7 linked regions of the Homo sapiens genome follow. The protein of the gene in region 7 interacts with the protein of the main gene of each other region in a biochemical or structural test. Each region holds a gene or a part of one and is shown on either strand. Other genes may lie near its edges. The genes, in order: DGKZ, DOCK4, PTPRR, ILKAP, RALBP1, G6PC3 and CNKSR1.

What was found.
Region 1: the proteins of CNKSR1 (region 7) and DGKZ interact in a test that uses a peptide from one of them, tested with the Homo sapiens proteins (one large-scale study listed by IntAct).
Region 2: the proteins of CNKSR1 (region 7) and DOCK4 interact in a test that uses a peptide from one of them, tested with the Homo sapiens proteins (one large-scale study listed by IntAct).
Region 3: the proteins of CNKSR1 (region 7) and PTPRR form a complex in vitro, tested with the Homo sapiens proteins (one large-scale study listed by BioGRID).
Region 4: the proteins of CNKSR1 (region 7) and ILKAP form a complex in vitro, tested with the Homo sapiens proteins (one large-scale study listed by BioGRID).
Region 5: the proteins of CNKSR1 (region 7) and RALBP1 interact in a test that uses a peptide from one of them, tested with the Homo sapiens proteins (one large-scale study listed by IntAct).
Region 6: the proteins of CNKSR1 (region 7) and G6PC3 form a complex in vitro, tested with the Homo sapiens proteins (one large-scale study listed by BioGRID).

Annotation. Positions count from the first base shown.
Region 1 is NC_000011.10:46,371,463-46,374,962, reverse strand, and holds part of DGKZ (diacylglycerol kinase zeta), read right to left. Parts: intron 3,477-3,500; coding exon 3,360-3,476; intron 3,260-3,359; coding exon 3,188-3,259; intron 2,889-3,187; coding exon 2,793-2,888; intron 2,536-2,792; coding exon 2,453-2,535; intron 2,347-2,452; coding exon 2,286-2,346; intron 2,193-2,285; coding exon 2,079-2,192; intron 2,003-2,078; coding exon 1,862-2,002; intron 807-1,861; coding exon 728-806; intron 565-727; coding exon 509-564; intron 360-508; coding exon 297-359; intron 198-296; coding exon 124-197; intron 30-123; coding exon 1-29. UniProt on the Homo sapiens protein: Diacylglycerol kinase that converts diacylglycerol/DAG into phosphatidic acid/phosphatidate/PA and regulates the respective levels of these two bioactive lipids.
Region 2 is NC_000007.14:111,727,400-111,730,899, forward strand, and holds part of DOCK4 (dedicator of cytokinesis protein 4), read right to left. Parts: intron 1,322-3,500; coding exon 875-1,321; 3' UTR 1-874. UniProt on the Homo sapiens protein: Functions as a guanine nucleotide exchange factor (GEF) that promotes the exchange of GDP to GTP, converting inactive GDP-bound small GTPases into their active GTP-bound form. Involved in regulation of adherens junction between cells.
Region 3 is NC_000012.12:70,662,239-70,665,738, forward strand, and holds part of PTPRR (receptor-type tyrosine-protein phosphatase R isoform 1 precursor), read right to left. Parts: intron 368-3,500; coding exon 257-367; intron 1-256. UniProt on the Homo sapiens protein: Sequesters mitogen-activated protein kinases (MAPKs) such as MAPK1, MAPK3 and MAPK14 in the cytoplasm in an inactive form.
Region 4 is NC_000002.12:238,186,696-238,190,195, forward strand, and holds part of ILKAP (integrin-linked kinase-associated serine/threonine phosphatase 2C), read right to left. Parts: intron 3,278-3,500; coding exon 3,158-3,277; intron 1,563-3,157; coding exon 1,436-1,562; intron 1-1,435. UniProt on the Homo sapiens protein: Protein phosphatase that may play a role in regulation of cell cycle progression via dephosphorylation of its substrates whose appropriate phosphorylation states might be crucial for cell proliferation.
Region 5 is NC_000018.10:9,520,513-9,524,012, reverse strand, and holds part of RALBP1 (ralA-binding protein 1), read right to left. Parts: intron 1,854-3,500; coding exon 1,504-1,853; intron 1-1,503. UniProt on the Homo sapiens protein: Multifunctional protein that functions as a downstream effector of RALA and RALB. As a GTPase-activating protein/GAP can inactivate CDC42 and RAC1 by stimulating their GTPase activity.
Region 6 is NC_000017.11:44,069,571-44,073,534, reverse strand, and holds the start of G6PC3 (glucose-6-phosphatase 3), read right to left. Parts: upstream 2,801-3,964; 5' UTR 2,570-2,800; coding exon 2,352-2,569; exon of another isoform or gene 2,293-2,351; intron 1,908-2,292; exon of another isoform or gene 1,714-1,907; intron 1-1,713. UniProt on the Homo sapiens protein: Hydrolyzes glucose-6-phosphate to glucose in the endoplasmic reticulum. May form with the glucose-6-phosphate transporter (SLC37A4/G6PT) a ubiquitously expressed complex responsible for glucose production through glycogenolysis and gluconeogenesis.
Region 7 is NC_000001.11:26,180,491-26,183,990, reverse strand, and holds part of CNKSR1 (connector enhancer of kinase suppressor of ras 1), read right to left. Parts: coding exon 3,381-3,500; intron 3,277-3,380; coding exon 3,095-3,276; intron 2,135-3,094; coding exon 2,050-2,134; intron 1,631-2,049; coding exon 1,589-1,630; intron 1,512-1,588; coding exon 1,407-1,511; intron 795-1,406; coding exon 735-794; intron 646-734; coding exon 577-645; coding exon of another isoform or gene 556-576; intron 263-555; coding exon 161-262; intron 1-160. UniProt on the Homo sapiens protein: May function as an adapter protein or regulator of Ras signaling pathways.

The sequences.
Region 1 (3,500 bases), on a different chromosome or scaffold from region 7:
GGCCCCAGGGCATGGTGCCCGCACAGTACCTGCAAAGGCGGGCGATGACATGGGCCTCAAAACACAGTCTCTGCAGGACAAGGACAGCAGGGCTCCCCCCAGCTCCGGTAGCCCCCTCCTCACCTGGGGATGTTCAGGAAAACAACACACTGGGGTTTCAGGTCCTGGATCTTGGGAGTCAAGTCCATTCCATCACACTGGAGGCGGGCGGGGAGGGTGTTGAGGTGCATGTGCCAGGTGGCCTCCGCCTCCCTCCCTTCCGGCCCACCCACCCACGGCAGCCTGGCCCCGCTCACCACCACTCGGATGTGCTTGGCCAGGTCCTTGGAGCTGCCCATCAGGAAGTCAGAGAAAGCTGTCTGTGGGAGACAGAGGGCGTCACCATCTGCTGACAGAGATCTTTCCTCACCAGCACCCGGCAGGGCTCCTGGGGCCTGGTGGACACAGGTGGGCACGGGCACGGGTGGTAGAAGAGGTGGGCACAGGCGGGGGTGCAGACCCCACTCACCCCGGCGTAGAACATCTTATTCCGAAAGCGGCTGTTGAATTTCTCTGGGTTGGCCTCTGGGTGGAGACAAGCAGTGGGGGCCAGTGAGTCACCCCAGCCTGCCCAGGTGGGGTTGGGGGAGGGCTGGGATGGATGCCTTCACTGGCGGGAGCAGGGTCTGACCCTCCCGGGGACACTCCTGTGCCCACCCTGCCCTGGCCTCAGTGGGAGGCTGCCAACCTCGAGACTCGTGGAACTCCAGGGTGACGTGGGCGTCAAAGCCCAGGCTGAAGTAGTTGTTGAAGACATCCAGGGGCAACTGGAAAAAGGTCAAGGGACCAAAATGAGGGCTGGGCCTCACAAATGTCCCCGCTCCAGGGGCCTCGTGTGGCCGAGCCAGCTCAGCCCATCTGTTCACAGGCTTTTCCTGGTCAGCAGCGTCCGCTAGGGCTCAGCCCAGCTCACCCGCTGTCAGGCACAGCCCTGCTCTGCCTGGTGGCTCCTGGGGGATTTCCCTGCGTGCCTGCAGCATCTCTTCCCTGTCAGCTCCCCTAACACTTCTTCCTGACATGCCATGTGGAGCACAACAGCGAGGCTTGGTTTTGCTCACTGCTTAGAGAAGTGCCTGGCAGGTAGCAGGCGCTCAGTGCATGTCTATGGAATAAAGCAGCATCTTCTGACCAGGCGTGGTGGCTCATGCCTGTAATCCCAGTGCTTTGGGAGGCCGAGGCAGATGGATCACCTGAGGTCAGGAGTTCAAAACCAGGCTGACCAACATGGTGAGACCCCATCTCTACTAAAAATACAAAAATTAGCCGGGTGTGGTGGCGGGTGCCTGTAGTCCCAGCTACTCAGGAGGCTGACGGAGGAGAATAGCTTGAGCCCGGGAGGCAGAGGTTGCAGTGAGCCAAGACTGTGCCACTGTACTCCAGCCTGGGTGACAGTGAGACTCTGTCACAAAAAACAAAAAACAAAAACAAAAAAAAAAACAAGAAAAAAAAAAGAAAACAGAAAAACAAAAATTAGCCAGGTGTGGTGGCACCTGCCTATAATCCCAGCTACTCAGGAGGCTGAGGCAGGAGAATCGCTTGAACCTGGGAGGCGGAGGTTGCAGTGAGCTGGGATTGCGCCACTGCACTCCAGCCTGGGTAACAGAGCGAGACTCAGTCTCAAAAAAAAAAAAAAAAAAACAAAAAAAAAACACAGAAAAAACAGCATCTTGTGAGGCAAGTACTATTATTCCCATCGTACAAGGAAGAAGTGGAAGTTGGAGAAATGAAGAGACACGCCCGAGGTCCCAGAACCAGCAAGTGGAAAAGTGGGATCCAGTCCCCAGTCACCTGCCCTGCCCCCCACCAACCCTGGCCAACTTACCCGGTCGGTGGCGCCTTCATCTCGGTCCTCAGGCCCTGCCTCGGGGTTGGGCTCAGCGTGGAGGTCCCAGCGGTCCAGCTGTACCACGTTCCCCTCCTCCACGTGGGAGAGGATCTTGGACACAGGCTCATCTGTGTAGCCCTGGGGGAGCAGGCAGGGACTGAGCCCTCTGTGGCTGGAGAGGCCCCAGCTGCACCCCCCTCCTATGGGTGCTTACCCCACCCCAGTTGAGGGTTCGGGCCAAGTCGTTGCCAGTACCCAGGGGCAGGATGGCAACAGGGGGTGGCGGCTTCAGGCGTAGCTGGTCCAGGGTGGAGAGGATCCAGCCCACCTGGGGGAGGAAGAACAGAGGCAAATCAGGCCCACAGGGACCCCGGCTTCAGGCCCAGCCCTGGTGCTCGGCTGGCCCATGCGGGGAGCTCACCGTGCCGTCGCCCCCGCACGCCAGGATCCGCAGGTTGTGCACTTTGCGGTACATCTCCAGCCTGGGCTCATGGGAAGATGGCAGTGGGGTCAGGGGATGTGTGCTGTACCCCAGGAGTGAGGCAAGTTCCCCCCCATGTCCCCCACAAAACCTTGGCAAGTACTTACGCCTCCTTGGGCCCTCCCTGGCTCAGGTCGAAGACTTGTCGGGGATTGAGATACCAGAGGAAAGACTGGATGATCTTTGCACCCTGGATGGGATGGGGAGCCAAGAGACAGTCAGGCAGTGGTGGGACGAAGTGGGAGCAGCAGAGGGAGAGGGGTGTGACTGTGGGAACCAGGGCCAATAAGGGGTGAGGGGTGGAGAAAGGACAGGATTTTCTCAGGATCCCTGGGAAAGAGGGATTGGGGTAGAAGCCAGAAACGGGCTCTGGGAACAGCTGCTGGCAGACGGGCTGGACCCCAACCCCCGCCCGAGCCCTTAGCTGAGAGGCAAGGCCGCGTTCACCTGGTTGCCCCCACTCTTGGGGTTCACAAACACCAGCAGGGGCTTCATGAGCGGGGAGGGGGTGGGCCTGATGATGAAGGGTCTCCAGCGGCCCTCCTGGGAGACAAGGTGAGAGGCTGTAAGCTCCTTCCCGTCCAGGACACCCTACCATCATCCTTAGCAGGCCCCCTGGGTGACTTTGTTCCCTCTTTGTACCCTCACGTACCATCTCTGGGCCAGATCTTACCAGGCCACAGAGCAGAAACTGGCATCTAATCCTGCCTTCCTCAGAGGCCCCAGAGCCCACACAGACCCCCACCAGCTGGCAGCATTAGCTGGGGGTGGAAGTTCTGTACCCTGAGCAACAGACCCCTCTCTCCTGCTCCCCTGCAGCCTCTGCCCAGCCTGGGGCTGACCTCAGGCCCTTTCTTGCTGGACTTCCTCTTGAAGGATGCCCTCTTCTTCTTCTTGCTTGCTTTCAGAGTATTCTGCAAGGGAAGCAGGGGTGTTGGTGACGAGGTGGGCAGGCTGGGGTAGCTGGCAGACCCCAAGTGCGTACGGGGCATCAAGGGTGCAGGCAGTACTCACCTGGGGCCTCCGGGCGCGGAGGATCCAGGTGGGCGGGATGACCACGGCTGCGTGGACCCCCAGCGAGCACGGCTCCTCGATCTGCTGCAGCATGAAGCAGGACACCTTGCTGTGGTACTGAGGAGAGCGAGGGGCCGGGCT
Region 2 (3,500 bases), on a different chromosome or scaffold from region 7:
GTATTGATTCCTGAATTCTTGCTAATGGGGCACAGTCATTTGTGCCTCATTAATACTTCAGCATTTGCTCTTGTTCAATGACAAATTTTATATAGGAAACTATCAAGAAAGGAAGCGCAAAATTCAAGTAAACATTTCTTCTGGAGCCTCTTGCTTAATCTAGCTGATTGGAACTCTGAAGCAAATTGCACCTTGAAAAGAAATACAGTAGATACCACGGTGTCAGGGTAGTAAGGGATTTAGCTACCAATTCACAAAATAGAATTTTACGAATGTAGACAGCAGTCAAACAGCAAAAGCAACCTTAAAGAAGTATTTTGTTTCAAGAACAAAACAATTTCCAGTCCCAAGCTTTGCAACCCCTTAAGTATACTGTCTTGCTCGCCTGCTTGAACTTTAATTCTGATGATCTGCACTGATAAACCTTGCCTTATTTACAGAAGTCTTCTAAAATAAGGACCACTGTGTTAGGATGTGCACTGACTTAATAAGCTTTCTCCAAGTATCAAGTATTCAGTAAAAACGATACAACATTGTCACACATTGTATCGTTTGACAATATCGTATTGGTTTTAAGATTAAACTATATAAAAAAAAGTGAACATAAAAAGGTACAAAAGGAGTCTTTATCACTATTTACCACTTCCAAATGAGAAACGTTTTAATGAAATTCAGCCATACTTCATTTAACATCTGGCGTTTTAGATCAGCAACTTTTAATATTGTGCAACATGATATTTAATAAGCAAGTTTTAATTCCATTCATCGAAGGAGCTGAGTAAGTTATTAAAGTGCCTACACTAAATGTCTTCTCATCATACTTCTTATTTTGTAAACGGGCAAAGAATGCATCGCAGGTACATAGAAAAGTGACTTATAACTGAGAGACCTTGCGGGGCAGGGGCCTGGGCCGCGGGCCGGGGTCAGTCCTCCGGGCCCCATTCTCCAGGTGGCTGGATCGCGCTGCCAGAGGCTTGGGGGGCAGCGCGGGCGGCTCCGACGTGACGGGGATGGAGAGGCTGTGAGGTAGCGGGACGGGGCGCCGCAGAGTCCGCTCGTAGACGCTGTACGGGGGCGGAGTCTTGCTCTCCTTGCGCACTGGCTCCTCCCCGCCGTAGCTCGGCACGGGCACCGGCACTGGCACCGGCAGGGGGGCCGACTGTTCATTCACCTGATTTTCAAAGCCTGAGGTTTCCGACGTGCTGCACCGGCTGAGAGAAGAAATCCCACTGCTGTAGCTGCCCGACAAGACAGGGGAGTTGGAGATGAGTCCTGGCGAGTGGTACTCCACTGGAGAGGGGGTGAAAGACTGCACAGAGCCCTGCTCCGGGGAGAAGGAAACGAGAGGGAGACACAGCATTGAGTCGTGAACGCAGATGCGCTGAAATGTACGCCCCGACGCGGAGGCCCCGGCCCCCAGCACCCCCAAAGCCGGCTGCAGCAGGAGATGCAGCCTTTAAGGAGGTGATTAAGGTAAAAGGCCATTATGGTGGATCCTAATCCAAGCTGACTGGTGTCCTTATAAGAGACATTTGGACACACAGGGAGACGTCAGGAATGCGACACACACAGACCTTGCAGGAAGGGCGGTCTGCAAGCCCAGGAGGGAGGCCTCGGGGAAACCAAGGCTGCCACGCATTGATCCTGGACTTCTACCTGCCAGAATTGAGAAAATACATTCCCAGTGTCTAAGCCACCCAGTTTGTGGTATTTTGTGAGGGAAGCCCGAGCAGACGAATACACTCACACTCAAATTTGAGTGTTGTCCTTTGTAGCACTGAAAATGCACACCAGACGTTTATCTGCGAGGGCCACCAGTCCTCGAGTTCAGTTCACCGCCCAGTTTACTCCTTATCATTTTCAGATAGAGGAGAAAGGAGCTGGGCATGGTGGCTCACGCCTGTAATCCCAATACTTTAGAAGGCCGATGCAGGGATCACTTGAGGCCAGGAGCTTGAGACCAGCCTGGGCAACATGGCAAAACCCCATTTCTACTAAAAATCCAAAGGGTTAGCTGGGCGTGGTGGCTCATGCCTGTAATCCCAGTTCCTCTGGGAGGATCACCTGAACCTTGGGAGGTTGAGACTGCAGTGAGCCGTGGAGCCACCAGTGCACTCCAGCCTGGGCAACACAATGAGACCCTGTCTCAAAAAATAAATAAAGGTATCCACCAAGATAATCTGGAGGCACACATTAGTCCTATAGTTTGGAAGAGAGGGAACTGGCCAAAAACCCCAAAAACCTAAAAACGCCATAAAACCTTTGGGGGCGCTATTCACTTTCCCAGCTCAGCAGGGCATGCTGCAGGCCAGGAGCCAGGGCCGCTGAGCACACTCAGCTCAGAAGACCCAGAGAGCTCAGGAGGAGGAGCAGAGGCACCCGAGGTTCTGCACCTGATTTCTCCAGCCATCACTCCAGACTCCAGACTCCTGAGCTGAACTGGCGAACTGGCAGCCCTCGGGGCTGTAGCCTGTGATGTGAGCTGTTTCCTCAGCAGTTTTTTAAAAACCTAATTTAGTTAATTTTTAACATTTCAAATTTCACATGAAACTCCAGAATTCTGGCAGTTCATAAAGAACTAGGAGTTCTGGCCACAATGGCACACATTCTCTTAATAGAGATAATCTTTAAAAGCTGAGAAGGGCTGTCCCTTTTCACTTTGCCAGTCCCCACTATGCCACGTGGGGACTACACCCGGCCTCCTTCATTTGTGTCAGCTGTCTGGCCCCATTTGGCATCTGAGTTTGTTACTTTCCCAACTAGTATCCCAAGGAAAACGAGTCCTAAGATAGATGCTCTGTGAAAAGAGGGTTCCGCTGGGAAATGCTGCACACTGTATACTCCTTGTGTATATTCAAAACATATTCGCATTTTCAAGGCTTAGAATAAAGGAATACAAATAATTTTGTTCAGTCCAGTGTTTTCCAAACTTACTTGACTATAGACCTTTTCTCCCCCGCTTATTACATAATGTCCTGGAAAACTAGTGTTCTATGGTATACACTTTGAGAAATGCTATCTTCTTAAGCTAACTTGACTTTGGTTTCTCTTTGTAAACAAAATAACGCTGGTAGATACACATCCTGTCATTTAGTAGGAGCCTAACATTAAGGCCAATTAAGAGTTCCCAATTCACTGCTACCTCTGTCAAAAGTTAGACCTGAAATTCAAAATATGGCAGGTCAGCTCAGTCTTCGCTGTAGGGTTAGACCCACAGTTTGATGGCTGGCTGGGGTAAAAAAAAAACCCAAAACCCCACTAAACTCTTATCAGTTAAGGCAGCACACTGCAAGGCTAGTAACATGGTAGCAGTGTGCCCCCTAATGTAACCCAGGAGGTATAACACAAATGTTCGATCTATGTTCTCTTCCTTCAAACCCTACATATAAAGACATGGCTTCGAACTGCATATGGCCAGTAAAAATGTACACAGGTCTGCTGAGAGACAGTATATACCAGCTTGCTAAGACTATTTTATAGCTATTCAAACATTTTTAGCT
Region 3 (3,500 bases), on a different chromosome or scaffold from region 7:
ATTAACGCAAATTAGAGGATCACAACATCCTACATAATGAATTTTCTTAATGTCTACTTACATTCATTTAATTATACTGCATATTAATAGTAGTTGACAACAAAAAATACATGAGGGAATGATTATAGTTTCTCTTTGATCTTAACATTATTTAATTTGCTTAAATTGCATTTGTAGTACTTAAATAATTTCAAAGTAGAAATGTAATCCTCTAACATCATCTACTTTGTAGATGGCTATAGCTACATAATCTTACCTTTAAGACAAGGTTTCGAATGGTGTAGTTATCACATTCATTTACACTGATAACCAGAACCTCAACTTTTCCATATATCCCTCTCTTTTCCGGCCAGTATAGCACACATTTCTGGAGGAAGGGAAAGAGAATACAGCAAATATTAATGGCTTTTATTAGCCATGGAGTACTTTTCATTCAAGCATCTCAAGAGTTTTATATCATTAGTTTTAAAATATCAAATATCAATTTTTATAGTTTTGTAAATATACTAAAACCATTGAATTGTAAATCTTAAGCAGCTAGATTTTATGGTATATAAATTATATCTCAACAGTTTTTTTTAAAGTATCAGTTTCATATGTGCCTATTAAACACTGTCACTGCTGGCTCCATACAAAAAAAAAAGGCAGAATTACCCAAAACTCCTCAGAGAAATTAAGAACTAATTAAGAAGTTAAGAAATTTAAGAGTTAAGAAATTGAGATCCAAATATTAGAATTTATCATGTGCTGACTAGAAATAAAAGAATGTTTTCCCACAATAATTGAGGAAAGTTACATTTTCCTGCTTCAACAAACTTATGTCTAATGAGAATATCTAATATGTTAGGTGGCATACAACCAAGTTTCCTTTATATGTAAGGCAGATATAATGATCATTAATACAACTATGGTATTATATTTTCCCGGACCAACAGTTTTTTTCACTTATGGAACTAATTTACAAAAATTACGTTAAAAATATTTTTATAATGGATCCTCCTGAGGAGCTTTAAAAGAGTGACAATAATTATACTGCAAGCAAGGCAACATAGCATGGTGGTTAAGGCGCAGGCTTTGAACTCGGAACCTGAGTCCAAATTTTGGTTCTACCATTCATTACCTGTGAATCCACGAACAAGATACTTAAACCCTTTGGTTATAGTTTCTTTATTATTGGCTATCTGGAAAGTACTTAGGATAAAGCCAGGCATAGAGTAAGCACTTACAACATGTTATTATTGCTGTTGTTATTTTAAAACTACTGGGTGATAGGTTTTTGGCCCAAAGTGATTAGATCTTCATGCATTAAATATTATTTTGGTATTATTATAGTCAGTTATCATTATTAAATAAAAATTGCAAAATGAGATTCAAGCATACATATAATCTCATTTTGCTTTTTAAACAACTGTAAAATAACTATTTTTTACCACAAATTTTGATGATAAAGAATGTAAAATGACAAATGTTTATGTTTTATTTTGAGTGCTCTTGGAAGCAATGTTAATTTTAGAAATGTTTAAATAGCACTTATTTTCTCCCAACCATACATACATTTACATAGAAATTCTTTCATTTGTTGCCTTCAATCAGAACCTTTTAATACCCAGGACACTTGTTTCTTCACATCTTTGTCAAAGGCATATGAATACACTTGATAAAAATTTAAATACTTATAGATTTAAAAGAGCAGCAAAAGACTCACAAAATTATAGAACTGAAGGAAAAGTGACACAAAGTATCAGAAACACACCTCCAGGGCTCTATTATGCTAAGTACCACTACTCTACAAGCTAGCACAGCGAAGGAAGTCACTTCACCTAGCAGAATCAGTTTCTTTCATCCATTACAATAAAAACACATTTACATCCTCTACATTTTGACCCTTTTTCTAAATGAAGTAAATTGTTTCAGCTTTATTTACATGCCACCTGAGACTCTCAGGCTATCAGACCAAAAGACTTACTCTGGCTGACTTAATGTTAACATTAAGAGAAGAAACCTTTTTAAAGTAGAGCAACTCATTTCTCTCGAAATCTATGAGTTGCCAAATGTCTAAAATTTTCCCACTTTGTTAAAGGTAATCATACAAACCAATTTGCCTGGTTTCTTTCAATGAAGCATCAATTATTTCGCTGTAAGACCCGAGCTACTGTGTATCTTAAAACCCATGCCTCCCGATGAGTCCAAGAAGAATGACAAAGAATCTTGGAAAAGGTATTGAACAAAGAAAGAGGCATTCATTCAGTAGTCCAGCAGTCTGGCGTACGTGCCCCATTGTCCACGATCAGACCTGAGCAGCAGGGCCCTCTTTAGGAAGGTGGCTCTCAAAACCAGTAAGAAAAGCTGCAAAGCAGGAGCTTGCCGCCTGCACCCTGACTCTTAATACTTGCACAGGCTTCTGCACCTACTTGATAAATGGAAATGCTGCTCGCTTCTCTCCCAAGCTTGCCGGGGGCCCTCTTGAATGTTTTTTTTGACTCGTTACCAAAAAAGCAATTGGCAGTCAGCTCCCAGTAGACAATGCAATGTGACTTGTTCATTCAAACAACCCTTAATTAGCATCCCATCTCCTTTCTGAGATACAATAGCTTATTTTTACACACTGAATACATTTTTCCCTCATTTAGATGACAGAAAAAGAGACCAGATAAGTGTGGGTACTTTTGAATATGAGGTGGGGGACAGCTGCAAATGCAGTTGTTTCTAAGAGTACAAGTTCATGTTCAAATTATTTTCCTGTACAGCTTTTTAGGGTTTCTTTATTGTGGTGCTAACAATGAGATAAAAGAGGCAGAAAAGGCAGGGAAGAAAAATGCTGCCTTACAGATAATACTGTGAAACCACACTAATTGTAGGTGATTCAAAATAGCATGCTATTTAGCAGAATATAACCCCAAATCATCACTATTCTTTTGCTAGCTAGGCTTATCCTTTCAGTAAAATTATCTATTAATTCTAAGAATCCATAATTTGGAAGAAAAAAATAGGTTTCCAGAGGACAGTGTCTCTTGTGCAAACAAGTTATTATCAAACTCTGACTGAAAAGATTCTGGACATTAACCAGTGCTTTGTAACTGGTGGTTTACAGCAAAAGTAGGATGTAACACAAAGCAATGCAAATTCTTTTTTTTTTTTTTTTTTTTTTTTTTTTTTTTTTTGTGATGGAGTCTCATTCTATCACTCAGGTTGGAGTGCAGTGGCACAATGTCAGCTTACTGCAACCTCCACCTCCCGGGTTCAAGCGATTCTCCCGCCTCAGCCTCCCAAGTAGCTGAGATTACAGGTGTGCACCATCACGCCCAGCTAATTTTTGTATTTTTAGTAGAGACGGGGTTTCACCATGTTGGCCAGACTGGTCTTGAACTCCTGACCTCAGGTGATCTGCCCACCTTGGCCTCCCAAAGTCCTGGGATTATAGGCGTGAGCCACTGCGCCCGGCCGCCAGCTCATATTTTTGTGATCTTTTTTCTTCCCTTGATTCTCCTTCTGGCCCCCAC
Region 4 (3,500 bases), on a different chromosome or scaffold from region 7:
AACTATTTCAAGGAAAAAAAAAAAACAAAAATGCCCACGAGAAATGACATTTATTCTAGAGAGCTGCTTTTCTTTCAAGTTTTTTGGAATTCCTTTTCAATTTAGGACATCCTGAGCCATGAGAAAAAAAACCTCATCTGGTTTATAACTCAGAGCTGTTCTTACTGCCTGTTATTTGCAAGGCATGATGTAGTGTTCCCAATTAAATTTACACTCAATGGATCTGCCTTCTTGGGCTCCAGAGGTCCCTTTCCTGGTTTTAATGCAAATCCCAGGCTGGGTATGGTGGCTCATGCGAGTAATCCTGGCACTTTGGGAGACCAAGGTGGGAAGATGGCTTGAGCCCAGGACTCTGAGACAAGCCTGAGCAACTTAAGGAGACACTGTCTCTACAAAAAATTCAAAAAATTAGCCGGCTGTGGTGGCACATGCCTATGGTCCCAGCTACTCAGGACGCTGAGGTGGGAGGACTGCTTGAGCCTAGGAGGTCAAGCCTGCAATGAACTATGATTGTGCCACTGTACTCCAGCCTGAGCAAGACAGCAAGACCCTGTCTCAATGGGTGTGTATCTCGTCCCCTCTACATATGATCAGCTGCTCTGCAGCAGCCATCACCTCATCTCCATGAGCAGACCTCATCTACTGGACAAACGCCATCAGCCCAAACGGCTCCAGCACACTGTATGTTAATGACCAACTGGTGTCAGTAAAGGTACGTAATGTATTTATTATGTAATTCTGAATTATGTAACCTATGTAATATGTACTATAATGTATGTTTACAGCCAACTTAATGTCCTACCTTCTGGTTTTTTTCCAGGCCCAAGAGCTTATCCAGAAGGCTTCATTTTAGTTTGTATAGTTGCAGCTAATTTTTCATTGTCTGTCTTTTCCTTGACATCATTTTGACTTTTGTTCTTCCTGGGCCCTGATTATCTGTACTAGCTCTGCTTGATCACCATTCATACTTTAATTAGTGGCTTCCAACTCTTATCTTCTAGGTCATGGATTAAAAATATTCTCTGCCAGAAGCCGCTCAGTTGCTGGTAAGGAGTAACACACGCTGCAGAGCCATGCTATGAAGCGTCATCTCCCGCTCAGCAGGGCTGCTCAACCGCGACACTACTGACATTCCAGGCTGAACAATTCTTTGTTGTGGGGCTGCCCTGTGCTTCTAAGATGTTTACCAGCATCCCTAGTCTCTACCCACCAGATGCCAGTAACAACTCCCTCCCGCAGTTGTGACAAAAATGTACCCAAACACTGACAAATGTCCCCTGGGCGGGGAGCAAAATCAACCCCAGCTGAGAATCACTGATGTACAATCAAGTGATGTGTTAGATTTTCTAGTAAATACAAACTAGCCAGTCCAAAATGCCAGTCAGAACCCAGGAGATGTTAATGCCAGCCGGGCTTCCTACCACATGAGACTCACATGAGGGACGATGGGGGCCTACACTCCTCGGTGATGTCGTTCAGGATGACGTGGGCATCCTGCATCTCCTCCCTCTCACCCTTCCGCTCAGCCACATAGCCCTTCAGACCAAAGATCACCGAAGAGGCTAAGGAAAAGAGAACAAAAGAGCCAATACAAAACTGTGCCCAACCCTCTGGAAACCCTAGTCCCAGAGCAAATGAGAGGGAACTATGACTGTCTGACTCAGCAATATCCTAATGGCGCAAACAAATAAGCAATACCCCTTAAGGCATCTCCCCCAGCTGCAAGTCTATAACTCAAATCGGAGCACTGTTGGACAGGGTGAGCTCTAAGAGGTTGCACAGGGACACAAAAGAGGAGTCAGTGAGCACAAAACAACTCTGTCTAGGGTGTAAGTCAAAGCATCAGGGCAAGGGATGTGCTGCCATCCCAGAGAAGTGAGATTCAAATCAGGCAAAAGGATCATGTGCAAATTAGTCTTGTGATAATTGAATAAGGACAAATGCAAGTCAGGAGAGTTTATCTCAAAAGCCCTTAAGATGCCCTGAAAATATGTATTTCCATGCTCAAGGCTGGTGAAGAATTTGAACAAACAGTAAGATCAGCTGCTTTTACTTCAACTGAGGAAGAAAAGGATAAAAGATTCCAATGCAGGCAGAGATCTATTTACATTTAATGGTTAGACTCATTTAAGCTTATTTTCTGATACCTAATGCCAGACAAATAATAAAATGAACACTGTGAAGAGCTGTCTTCTGGGAAGTGACAAGCTAAGTTGAAGATGACATCTTCCCAGCAAAGCTACAAGTGGGTTTTTTCACATACCTCTGCCTGCATCATACAGCTTTCACTGAGGTAATCTGTGACAAAGGACAATGCAGTCAATGAAAATCCCACAGCTCGGGCCAGGCACGGTTGCTCACGCCTGTAATCCCAGCACTCTGGGAAGCCGAGGCGGGCAGATCACAAAGTCAGGAGATCGAGAGCATCCTGGCTAACATGGTGAAACCCCGTCTCTACTAAAAATACAAAAAACTAGCCAGGCGTGGTGGCAGGCGTCTGTAGTCCCAGCTACTCGGGAGGCTGAGGTAGAATGGTATGAACCCGGGAGGCGGAGCTTGCAGTGAGCCGAGATGGTGCCACTCCAGCCTGGGCGACAGAGCGAGACTCTGTCTCAAAAAAAAGAGAAAAAAAGAAAATCCCACAGCTCAAGAATACTTTAGTACCACAACTGAAGTATTCTCTTTAGTTAATACTTTTCGTTTTCTTCCTCACTAACTTTGACAAGTTACACAACTGACTACAAATTTCAACGGCTTTTTCCAGGCTTAGGGAAGCTGCCTACTAAGCTAAATCACGTAATTCAAAGCACTAATTGACAAACTGCAAACAAAGATTGGAAGTCAGAGAGAGACTAGGTGGTCAAAAAACTAACCATTCACTGCAGAAGGCTAAGAAAAAAACCACCTGTATTTTTTAACTCTTGAGGAACAAATGTAGGTTTCCTATCTGATCAAAGGTAGGATCAGAGATAGATGTACATGAAAAGTAGGAGAAAGCACAGAGAAACTTGGAAATTCATTTGCAAAAAGGGAACCCTACTTATTTCTTAAATACAGACATAAAAAGAAAGTATTATTAGAAAGCTGAAACTGGTTTTGCTCTGGGTTGTTTTAAAATATGAAGTCTAATACATTTGTTTTCAAATTGTCTGAAAACCTTTACAAACTTTCTTTTCCACAAGCTCTTCACTGCCATTCTTCTCTTCCTCGGAGGTTTTTCTCTTTGCTCCTTTCCCTTCAGTCTTTACCATCTGGGATATTGATGTGGCAAGAGAACCTGGAAATAAAGTAAAAGCCAGACAGAAACACAGCTGTAGACTGTTGGAAAAAGTCACTAGTAGACTGGGCTTCATCCTAGCACTCAAAGACAAGGTCATTTGAAGCAAGGACTGGCAGACACAGGCAGACCCAGGAGTTGTGTCTTCATGGTTGGCGGGGAGGGGGAGGGGGGTCCCACAGTGAGAGAACATAAAGTTAAGATCCAGGCCCTGAGTCAAACT
Region 5 (3,500 bases), on a different chromosome or scaffold from region 7:
CCTCAGCCTCCCAAAGTGCTGCGATTACAGGCGTGAGCCACCATGCCCGGCTAAAACATCTTATATTCTTTATTTTCAACTTACTTTGACATATTTTAACAGACGCAATGGAATGAATGAGGACCATGAGGGAAGTGGGAGCACCACAGTAGTAAAGCTGGGTTGAGGTTGAAAGCCCTCACTCCAGAAACAAATACCTGGACACAGCCAGCATTTAAGTATGGATGTTCATATGCTAGGAGGCCAGGGCATTAGGTTGGCTGAAAAGCTACTACAAGAAATTATTTCCTACCTAAAACTTACTCTTACAACACACTTGACTCTTCTATGATACAACCATCTCTATTATATTATAGTAATATTAAGTATCAATGTAATATTTACCAGATCCTGAAATCCTAATGATCAAACTAAAATCTGAGAAACATTTTGCTTTCAAAGCGTAATCAATGAGTAACAGAAGAATCTTTATTTTTTAGAGATAAAATCTTGCTCTGTCACCCAGAGAGGAGTACAGTGGCATGATCATAGCTCACTGCTGGGCTCAAGCAATCCTCCTACCTCAGCCTCCGAAGTAACTGGGACTACACATACATGCTACCACACCCAGCTAATTTTTAATTTTTATGTAGAGACAGGGTCTTGCTATGTTGCCTAGGCTGAACTCCTGGCCTCTCGCTATCCTCCTGCCACAGCCTCCTAAAGTGCTCGCATTAAAGGTGTGAGCCACCGCGCCTGACTGAAACGCTCTTTAGTAAATGAAAACACTCTCTAATAACAGTGACAGTGATTTATGGTGACTCAGAATACTGGCCAAAAAGAGGGCTTAAGATAATAAATATAACCTATCATCTCCCTTTTTATTGGCCTGAGTAAAATATCATTAACTGCAATTAAAAGAAAACATATACTCTATGACAGCACCAACTGAGCAGCAATAAAGGAAAGCCAAGTATGTATGTCGTAAAAAGATACCAATTAACACACTACCCAATTCCCTGAAGTTCCTTTTCAGATTCAGAGCCTATAACATGTCTCTCTAGGATCCATCCTTATGAATGAAATCCTCAGGCTAAATCTTTGACCAAACAATTAATGACAGGTCCCTTTGTGCCTGAGTTTGATGTGTGTCTGTGATCTAACGAAGCAATAATGCTATTGATTAAATAACTGGGATCTCTAAAATTCTACACACGAACTCTATAACTGTAGATGCCATGGGCTCCTCCTCCCCTAATGAAGGATCCTTGTCATCAGGTCTTGTTTATAAACCCACATCAAAGACTGTACCGCATTCAAATTACATCACTACAAGCTAAAGGGCAAGTATGTTATCTTATACATTGACACTGTCCAAATTATGAAAGGAAAAGACCCGTATTCAAGCTAATCCATTACCTATCTCCTCAAGTTCACTGCTTTACATGTGACTCAGCAATAGAAAATTACCCCAGTTCCCCAATGTCAGTACCAGAGGGTATATGTGTAGAGAAGACCATGTACCTGCACAGTTGGGCTGAGCACTATAGAAATGTTCTGTATATTCATTTTTGTTTCCAGTTCCTTTGCAATGACATGGTCCATGTGCACAATGAGCCAAGAAATCAGAAGATAGTTACATTCTGGCAGTTCTTTGAGTAAACGCTGGAATTCCTGCACTTTCTCAGTCTCCGTGGTCCTCCCACAAGCCTCTTCAAATCTGGGCATAAGCTCTTTGGTAAGCAAATTCTCTGGAAGGTCTCGCAAATACTGCTTCAGCAAACTGGCTACAGTGTTAGGCTCATAGTCTTCCAAGTTTGTAGACTCCTCCCGGTCATAGGCTGCTTTTAGCTCATCCACCTTTGATTTAATTCCTTAAAACATTCAAATTCAGAAGAGAGAAGATACTGAGAAAAGAAAATCAAACACACAAGTTTTCTTTACCATTATCCCCACCCTTGCTAAGGAGATGAGAACAGCAACCTGACCAATAACGAACCTCTTGTTATGAAATATTTATCTGCACAAAGGTCGTACAGTTCCTCTGTAAACACTAACATGTAAGACTACACTTGGCTGGGCGCAGTGGCTCACACCCATAATCCCAGCACTTTGGAAGGCTGAGGCGGGCAGATAGCTTGAGCCCAGGAATTCGAGACTAGCTGGACAACATGGTCAAAACCTATCTCTACAAAAAATACAAAAATTAGCTGGGCATGGTGGCGTGCGCCTGTGGTCCAAGTTCTTTGGGAGGCTGAGTTGGGAGGATCACTTGATCCTGGGAGGTTGAGTCTGCAGTGAGCCATAATTGCACCACTGGACTCCAGCCTGGGCAACAGAGTAAGACACTGTCTCAAAAAATAAAAAAAATAATTAAAAACAGGCCAGGCACCATGGATCACACCTGTAATCCCAGCACTTTGGGAGGCCAAGGCAGGAGGATTATTTGAGGTCAGGAGTCCAACACCAGCCTGGCTAACATGGCAAAAACCTGTCTCTACTAAAAATACAAAAATTAGCCAGGCGTGGTGGTGTGCGCCTGTAATCCCAGCTACTTGGGAGGCTGAGGCAGGAGAATCACTTGAACCTGGGAGGCAGAGGTTGCAGTGAGCCGAGATCACACCACTGCACTTCAGCTTGGGTGACAGAGCAAGACTCCATCTAAAAACAAAAAACAAAAAACAAACCCAAAAAACTAACTTCAAAAGTGAATTTAACCAAAAGTTAAATGATAATTGAAAAGCTCAACAGTCAGAAGTCAAAGCAACCATGGATATATTAAGCAAATATGCCCATTAATTCAGGAATTTGTTTTTAATGTAAAAACATTACACAGTGGCGCACACCTGTAATCCCAGTACTTTGGGAGGCCGAGGTAGGTGGATCACCTGAGGTAGGGAGTTCAAGACCAGCCTGGCCAACATGGTGAAACCCTGTCTCTACTAAAAATACAAAAATTAGCTGGGCATTGTGGCGGGTGCCTGTACTCCCAGCTACTCAGGAGGCTGAGGCAGGAGAATCGCTTGAACCCAGGAGGTGGAGGTTGCAGTGAGCCGAGGTCACACTACTGTATTCCAGCCTGGGTGAAAAGTGAAACTCTGTCTCAAAAAAATAAAAAAAAAGGTAAAAAGACAAAAATTAAACTACAATCCAAGTGTAAGTCTGGCTCTACACAGGCAGCCAGCTGCTTTTTCTAACAAGTCACAAGACTGACCACAAAAAAATGTGGCTTGGTGTACCTAAGTATGTTCCAAAAAGTTGTGGGTAAATTACTTTTTTATGTGTAAATATTGTACTGTAATTGCAAAGGGTGAATTAGCTACCCAAACAAACACTTTGAAAATTATTCTCCATTAAATCATCCCCATCTAATTTCTATTTTAAAGTTTGGATTATTTTAAGTATAACCTTAATCTGAACAGAGCTGGAACAAAAAAAATAAAGTATGGGTTTCTAAAATCGTTTTGCTTATTGAACAAAAGGAAACTAAAGCAAATGATTTGCAAACATTACATAAGATT
Region 6 (3,964 bases), on a different chromosome or scaffold from region 7:
GAGCTGTGATTGTGCCATTGTACTCCAGCCTGGTGATGGAGTGAGATCCTGTCTCAAAAAAAGAAAAAGTGAATAAAATAAAAAATAAAACTGATACAGAGGCAAGAGATTGTGGTAAGCCGTGTGTGTGCTCTGAGATACTCAGCCGTCCCACTCTACCCCCTCTCACTGCAAGGCCAGCTCTTATCATCCACAGAGAGTCCAGGACCCAGCTCTCTCCTCCAGGCCCTCACTAACCCTCCTGCTACCCCTGCCTCCATGTCCCCAGTTACAGCCTGAATTATCCACACCTAAATTATTTAGGTGAGCCTCTCAGGTCTGAAAATGGGGGTGGGAAATGGACAGAGAAGGCTGAGAAAGAATAAGGAGGACAAAAAAATGTCAAAATCCTCTGGTCTAGCAAGTGCTTGGCTGGGCCCTGGGAACCACACAATGAAGAGGCTGCTGTGGCCAGAAAGAGAAAAGATGGGATAGCAAAAGAGATGCTGGCAGGAAGCCACGTGCTGGGGAGGGATATACAGAAGGCACTTGCCTCTCCCCTCTGAAAACTGAGCCTAGTATATATACAACAAGTGCTCACACAGAAAATGAACGGCGGTGCCAGGCGCGGTGGCTCACGCCTGTAATCCCAGCACTTTGGGAGGCAGAGGAGGGTGGATCACTTGAGGCCAGGAGTTTGAGACCAGCCTGACCAACAAGGTGAAACCCTGTCTCTACTAGAAATAAAAAATTAGCCGGGCGTGGTGGTGGGTGCCGATAATCACAGCTACTGGGGAGGCTGAGGCAGAAGAATCTCTTGAACCTGAGAGACAAAGAGGTTTCAGTGAGCCAAGATCATGCCATTGCACGCCAGCCTGGGCAACAGAGCAAGACTCCATCTCAAAAAGAATAAAAAAAAAAAAAAAAAGAATGCCAGGTTGCTCACGCCTATAATCCCAGCACTTTGGGAGGCTGAAGCGGGCGGATCACCTGAGGTCAGGAGTTTGAGACCAGCCTGGCCAACAAGGCGAAACCCCTTCTCTACTAAAAATACAAAAATTAGCCGAGTGTGGTGGCACACGCCTGTGATCCCAGCTACTTGGGAGGCTGAGGCAGGAGAATGGCATGAAGCCGGGAGACGGAGTTTGCAGTGAGCCAAGATTGCACCACTGCACTCCAGCCTGGGCAACTGAGCGAGACTCCGTCTCAAAAAAAAAAAAAAAAAAAAAAGAGAAAATGAAAATGAATAGGGACTTTGCCACTTGGGGGACATTAATAGTGTCTGAAGGAGATTGTGATCTTTGGGGGACAAGGAATAGAGGGGGAGGCTTATACAGACTTTGAGAGAGGAGAGCACAAAGCAAAGGGCAATTAGGCAAGAAAGAAGTGAACAGATCACTGTGGTTCCCTTTACATAAGGATGAGGCCCTCGTGGAAAAGAGTGGAAGGGAGGGGAACTCTATGTTGTTTTTCAGCAAGTCATTCCAGCTCATTGAAATACCTCCTATGAGCCTCCCTTCCTTCCCCCAGGCTGAGGATCTGGCAACAGAGGCTGAGGTGAAGGGAGGTGTGGCTGCATGCCCAGCCCCAGGGGCCACAGGGCCTCCACCCATGTCCCTGGGATTCCTGGCTTCTAAGTCTCAGTGTGAAGAGTCTACTGGTGAATGAAAGAGAAAGAAGAGAAAGTGTTCCCTGGAAAGCAGTGCTTTAGCCCAAACTTTACTGCATACGCACAGGGAATCACCTGGGAACCTTGTTAAAATGCAGATTTTGATTCAGTAGCTCTGGCCCGGGGCCTGAGAGTCTGCGTTTTTAGCCAGTTTTCAAGTGCTGCCTATGCCGTTGGGCATGGTCCAGGGACCACACCTTAATCTGCAAGGTGTCTCTGTCCTTAGCAGCTACCGTGATGCCCAGCACAAAGCATGCTTCTGAAAAATTATAGCAAATGAATGAATACATGAATGAAAAAGTGAGTTGAGAGGTAGGACTCTCCACTACTTAAATCACCATATTTGTTAAAATATGAATTCCCATAAACCAAAAATAAAAAATAAAAAATAAATTCCCAACCCCTTGGAGTTTCTAAATTAGTAAGTGTGAGATGAGGATGGGATATTTACATTTTAGACACGCCCCTTAGGTGATTTTTCCATCAGACCAGTTTGAAGAACACTGGTCTAATGAGTAGGATGGTTGGACTCTGAGGTTTGAGTCCAAGCTGCACAAAGATGCTCAAGGGGAAAAAAAATCAGGGACTACAGAGTAGGGGTGGGAAGGCCCTTGAGACAGTTGCTGAAAGAGACCAGGGCTTACACATGACTCAGGGCCCTCGGGGGTGGGGACCAGGATGCCGGAGGGCTTCTCTGTCTCACCACTTGAAGATGAGGTTGAGCCACTCGGTGATGAGGCTGATCCAGAGCACCGCGATGCCCACACGGCGGGAGGCGTAGTAGGCCGCGGGGAAGTAGAACAGAAAGAGGATCTTGGGATCGCCCAGAAAGGTGATCCAGAGCCACACGTTCTCCAGCCAGGCTAGCTGGTTCTGTAGCGCCTCGGCTATCACGATGCCCGCGCCCAGCGTGGACTCCATGGCGGCCCAGCTGCCGACCAGGCCCCGGCTTGCTCCAGGGCGGAAACCAGAGTCCAGGCAACGAAGCAGCGTCGACCCTCTGATCTCCAAAGCCCACCCCTCTGAGCCCCAGGCCCCGCCCCGCCAGCGGTCACCACCAAGCCCCGCCCCCAGCAGTCCCCCGCTCCTGCAAGACCGGCCTCCAGCCGGTACTGTTTCCTCCTGCGCTCTCCTCCGGTTTTCCTCCCTACTGGGCAGCGCAGGGGACAAACCTTTGTAAAGGCGTTTCCTCAGGGCCCCACGTGGCCACTGTTGCAGGCACGTGGGCAGCCGGCTAGCGGCGGCACCAGTGCGGTTCCGGGTCAGGGGACTGACTAGCCGGCGGGCCGCGCGCGCTCCCAGCGTCCCTGCTCCGCTGATGCGAAGGCGGATATATAATCTCCAGGGCCGGGATTCTTTCCCCACCGGACCTCTCTTCTCCAGCACCAATACCCACCAAAAAAAAAAAAAAAAAAACAAACAGCAAAAAAATAAATAAATCTGAGATCCTTTGGAGAAAAGGCTGCAGACAGCCCCTCCTCCTGGGAGCTGAAGCGGGATCCTAAATTTGCATACACCCCTAATCAGTTCACTCCTTCCTCCCCAGCCTCAAGACTCCCCCTTTCTAATTCGCCTGCTATTAATCTGGAGGCTGACAGATAAGTCTCTTGATTTTGAGGGGTCTTCCCTAAAAAGGCGAATTCTCACATATAGCGCAAAGTCACACTTCCTTCCAGTTCTTCCCTTGCTTCCCCCACCCCCATCCTCCTGCCATCCAAAACCCTGCTTAGGCAGATGAAACCAAGAGATAGTAACAGTGTTGGTATGGGAAGAGGATTGGCACACACCCGCGACAGAGTTTGAAACAGTCATCTGGGGGAACTCACATAGAAAATAGAAATCTCAGCTATTCTAGGCGAGGTCCTGCCTAGAATACTGTTGAACAGTGTCTCCTTAGTTTCTTCCTACCTCAATCAACTTTGTTCTTGAAAAGTTTTTTTTTTTTTTTTTTTTTTGCCGGGCGCGGCGACTCACACCTGTAATCCCAGCACTTTGGGAGGCCGAGGCGGTCGGATCACAAGGTCAGGAGTTCCAGACCAGCCTGGCCAACATAGTTAAACCCCATCTCTACTAAAAATACAAAAATTAGCTGGGCGTGGGGGCACGCGCCTGTAGTCTCAGCTACTAGGGAGGCTGAAGCAGGAGAATCGCTTGAACCCGGGAGGCGGAGGTTGCGGTGAGCCGAGATGGGACCACTGCACTCCAGCCTGGGCGACAGGGCGAGACTCTATCTCAAAAAATAAAAAAAAATAAAAAATAAAAAAGGTGCTGGGCACAGTGGCTCACCCCTGTAATCCCAGCACTTTGGAAGGCCAG
Region 7 (3,500 bases):
GGAGCAGGTACCTGTGGGGGGGTCTGAAGGGAGCTAGGGGGGCGCAGCAGGGGAAGGTGCCTGTTGGGGGGGGTCTGAAGGCAGGTGTGGGGGTGGTGGGGGCAGGTACCTGTGGAGGGGGGGGTCTGAAGGCAGGTCGGGGGGCGGCAGGGGAAGGTACCTGTGGGGGGGTCTCCGGTATCGGGATCTTCTTCAGCACTAAGCTGAGTCCGGCTGGCTCCCGCAGCAGTTCCCTCACCATGTTCTTACGGGGCCATCCCACCTGGGGGACAGAAACACTGGCTGGTATCAACCTGGGCAGGAGGCTCTAAAGCAACCACCAACTCTCACCCTCGTGCTGGGAGCTCTCTCTCAGCCTCCCACTTCTGCCTCCCACTCATGCAGCCTCCTGGGGGCTTCCATGGGCCCCATCACCTGGGCTCTGCAGAGGATGCTCTCACCAGACTTAGCTGGCTCATCTCCTGGAAGGCAGCTCCCACAACCCTGGTCAGAACCCTTGGTTGCCTCCCCACCCACCAGACTTGGGTTCCACTCGGTGACCCCTTCACCTCCTACCATGTCCCTCTCCTCACGCACCACCACCTGCTCGTTGATCTGGACAACCTCGTCTCCAGGCTGGATCTGCAGTCGGGAGTCAGTGGGAACCTGACGTGGGGAATGGGGCCTGAGGTTGGCCTGGCTTGCAGGTGAGAGGCCTCGGGGATGGGCGGCTGAGAAGGGTGTGGGGCTCTCACCTGGGTGTCCACTTGGGACACAAAGTGCTGGCAATTGCTGGTGGTGTGAATTTCTAGGCCCTGCAGAGGCAGAGGCTATAGTCACCGGGGGCTGGGGGGCAACAGGGCCAATAGGCAGGACCCCCGCCAGACACCAGGACTCTATGGTGGGTGGAACTGTGGCAAGAGCTGACCCCAAGCTGGTCCTGCCCAGACTTGCTGTATGACTTTGGACTTGCTACTCCTGTGGGCCTCTGCCTTCTCCTCTGCTAAGAGCCAGAGGGAAGCTGGAGACCCTGATTTCTGAGGTACCAGCTTCTCAGCAACATTCCTAAAGGGACAAGCAGGGACAGGGCAGGGATAGGGCTCTGGTCTTCCCCACTGGTCAAAGATTAAACCAAGAAAGGTCACATCCTCTCCCTTTCTCCTAACTGCCCCCAAGCCCCTGCCCCGTCTCCATCCCAAGGCTGGAACACACTACCTGAGGCCACACCCGCGTGGCCCCTCAGGACTGGGGAGGTGCAGAGCAACGGGAGACCCTGGCCAATCCTCTGGGCCTCCATTTTAGCATCTGTACAAAAAAGGCTTTCCAGCCATGGCAGCACAGGGTTCTGTGGGATCCTGGACCCTATTTCAGGGCCCAGACAAGGCTGCCAAGGGGTCAGAAGTGAGAGGTGGGAGGGCAGGGCTCACCAATGGACTGTCCAGCTGCACCTGCTCGAGCACGGCCTTCTGTTCCAGCAGCTCCTTGGGGCAGCAGACCAGGATGTTGTGGCAGATCCCAGCCACGTGGCTGCACTGGGGGAGGGGAGCGGGCTATGTAGCCTGAGCCCGATCGCCCCTACCCCCACTCTCTTCCCACCCCACAGACTCACGATCCTCAGGACTGTGCCCTCCTTCTCAGCCGCTGGACCATCCTGGAAGTAGAATGAGAGAGCAGGGGCCTCCCCTGAGCAAGGGCCATAAGGGGACTGCCTTCTCCTGGGGGCAGGGTGGGATTCCGTACAGTCCCTCCCTGCCTTCCCTACACTGGCCCCCTGCCCAGAACCACAGGGCCTCAGCGTTTTAACCAGAGGGCTCGTTTCCCTGATACCAGGCCCCCAGAAGTCACCACACGTGCCCTCCCCTCCTTCCCTGTCCTGAGTGTCAAAATTCCCCTGCCAGCTAGGGGACCCCAGGCCCCATTGTCCCATACCCAGTGGCAGGGCCTCCTCTCCTCCTTTCTCGCCCGTCTCAATCCTCATACTCGATCCTGGGCTGATTCACAGGTTATAAAAAGCTCTAGCCCAGCTTGGTCTCTAGGGCATGGGCCAAGCCTGGCCCTTGGTTCTCCTACCTCATGCAAGACCTGGCTCAGCTCCTCCAACAAGTCTCGGATCTCCTGGCATGCTGAGAAATCATTTAAGTGGGAGAAGAGGTACCTGGCAGGGGAAGAATAGCACAGTGGTTAAGGGACTATGCTTAACCACTCAGAGCCAATTACTCACCAATTACTCACCTCAGAGACTTGGGGATAATACCTGCTCTGATGGGTTTTGGTTTAGAGTAAAGGAGATGATTGAGACATCTAAAGAGATTAGCACAGGACTTATTTGTCATGTGCCTACCACATGCCAAGCCCTGTTCTAGGCACTGGGGAAACAGACAGTAAAGACATCATACATCAATATCAATTTAACTTTGGCTGTAATGAGTATCATGAAACATTGGATAATGAGTTTATAATAAGTTATTATTTATTATTTATTAATAGTATAGCTTGGAGAGTGTACAACAGGGAAGGCTTCCCCGAGATGACATTTGAGGTGGGGTCTGTAGGACAAGCAGCAGCCAGTGCACAGGGTTGGGGAGGCTCTCCATTCAGTGGTTGTTGATGAGATCGATTATTACAAGCTGGAGGGTGGGGTGGGAACTCTGGCATCCCAGTGCCCCTGCACAGGTGGATTAATCCCTCTGCCCTGCTCCACCATATCTTTTTTTTTTTTTTTTTTTTTTTTGAGAGGGAGTCTCACTCTGTCGCCCAGGCTGGAGTACAGTGGCATGATCTCGGCTCACTGGAACTTCCACCTCCCAGGTTTGAGTGATTCTCCTGCCTCAGCCTCCCCAGTAGCTGGGATTACAGGTGCGCACCACCACACCTGGCTAATTTTGTATATTTTTGGTAAAGATGGGGTTTCACCATGTTGGCCAGGCTGGTCTCCAACTCCTGACCTCAAGTGATCTGCCCGCTTCGGCCTCCCAAAGTGCTGGGATTACAGACCTAAGCCACCACGCCTGGCTCACCATATCTGAACAAGAGCCAAGATCTGTTTTTCTCTCCCACGCCCTGAAGGAGGCCAAGGATGACAATAGTCCCTCACTCGTCACCCCAACCCGGGTACCTGCTGAGCCAGAAGAGGAGGGCGTCAGCTTCATGCAACAGCTCCACAGCTGCACAGAGGACATCAATAGGGGTCTTGGCACAGTCCCCCAGGCAGCCTTGGACTATGCTCTGGAAGTCATGGGTTGCCCCCAGAAGTCCCTCTGTCAGGCTTTGCAGGTTCTCTGTCTGTAGCCTGGAGCTCTGTGCCAGAAAGAGGGCAAGTCACCTCCCTGGCAGCAGCCAGCCCCCCATCACACCCCCCAGGTTGGTGGAAGCTGCAGCCAGTGTGACCAGCATTCACTCACCAGGGCCTGGAGCTGTTCCACCCCGCCCAGGATGAGCTCCTGGTGTCCCAGAGACCGCACAGCCAGAGCCTCGAGGCTTTGGGGGCAGAGCTGGAGCAGGTTCTTGCCAGGCAGCTGCCA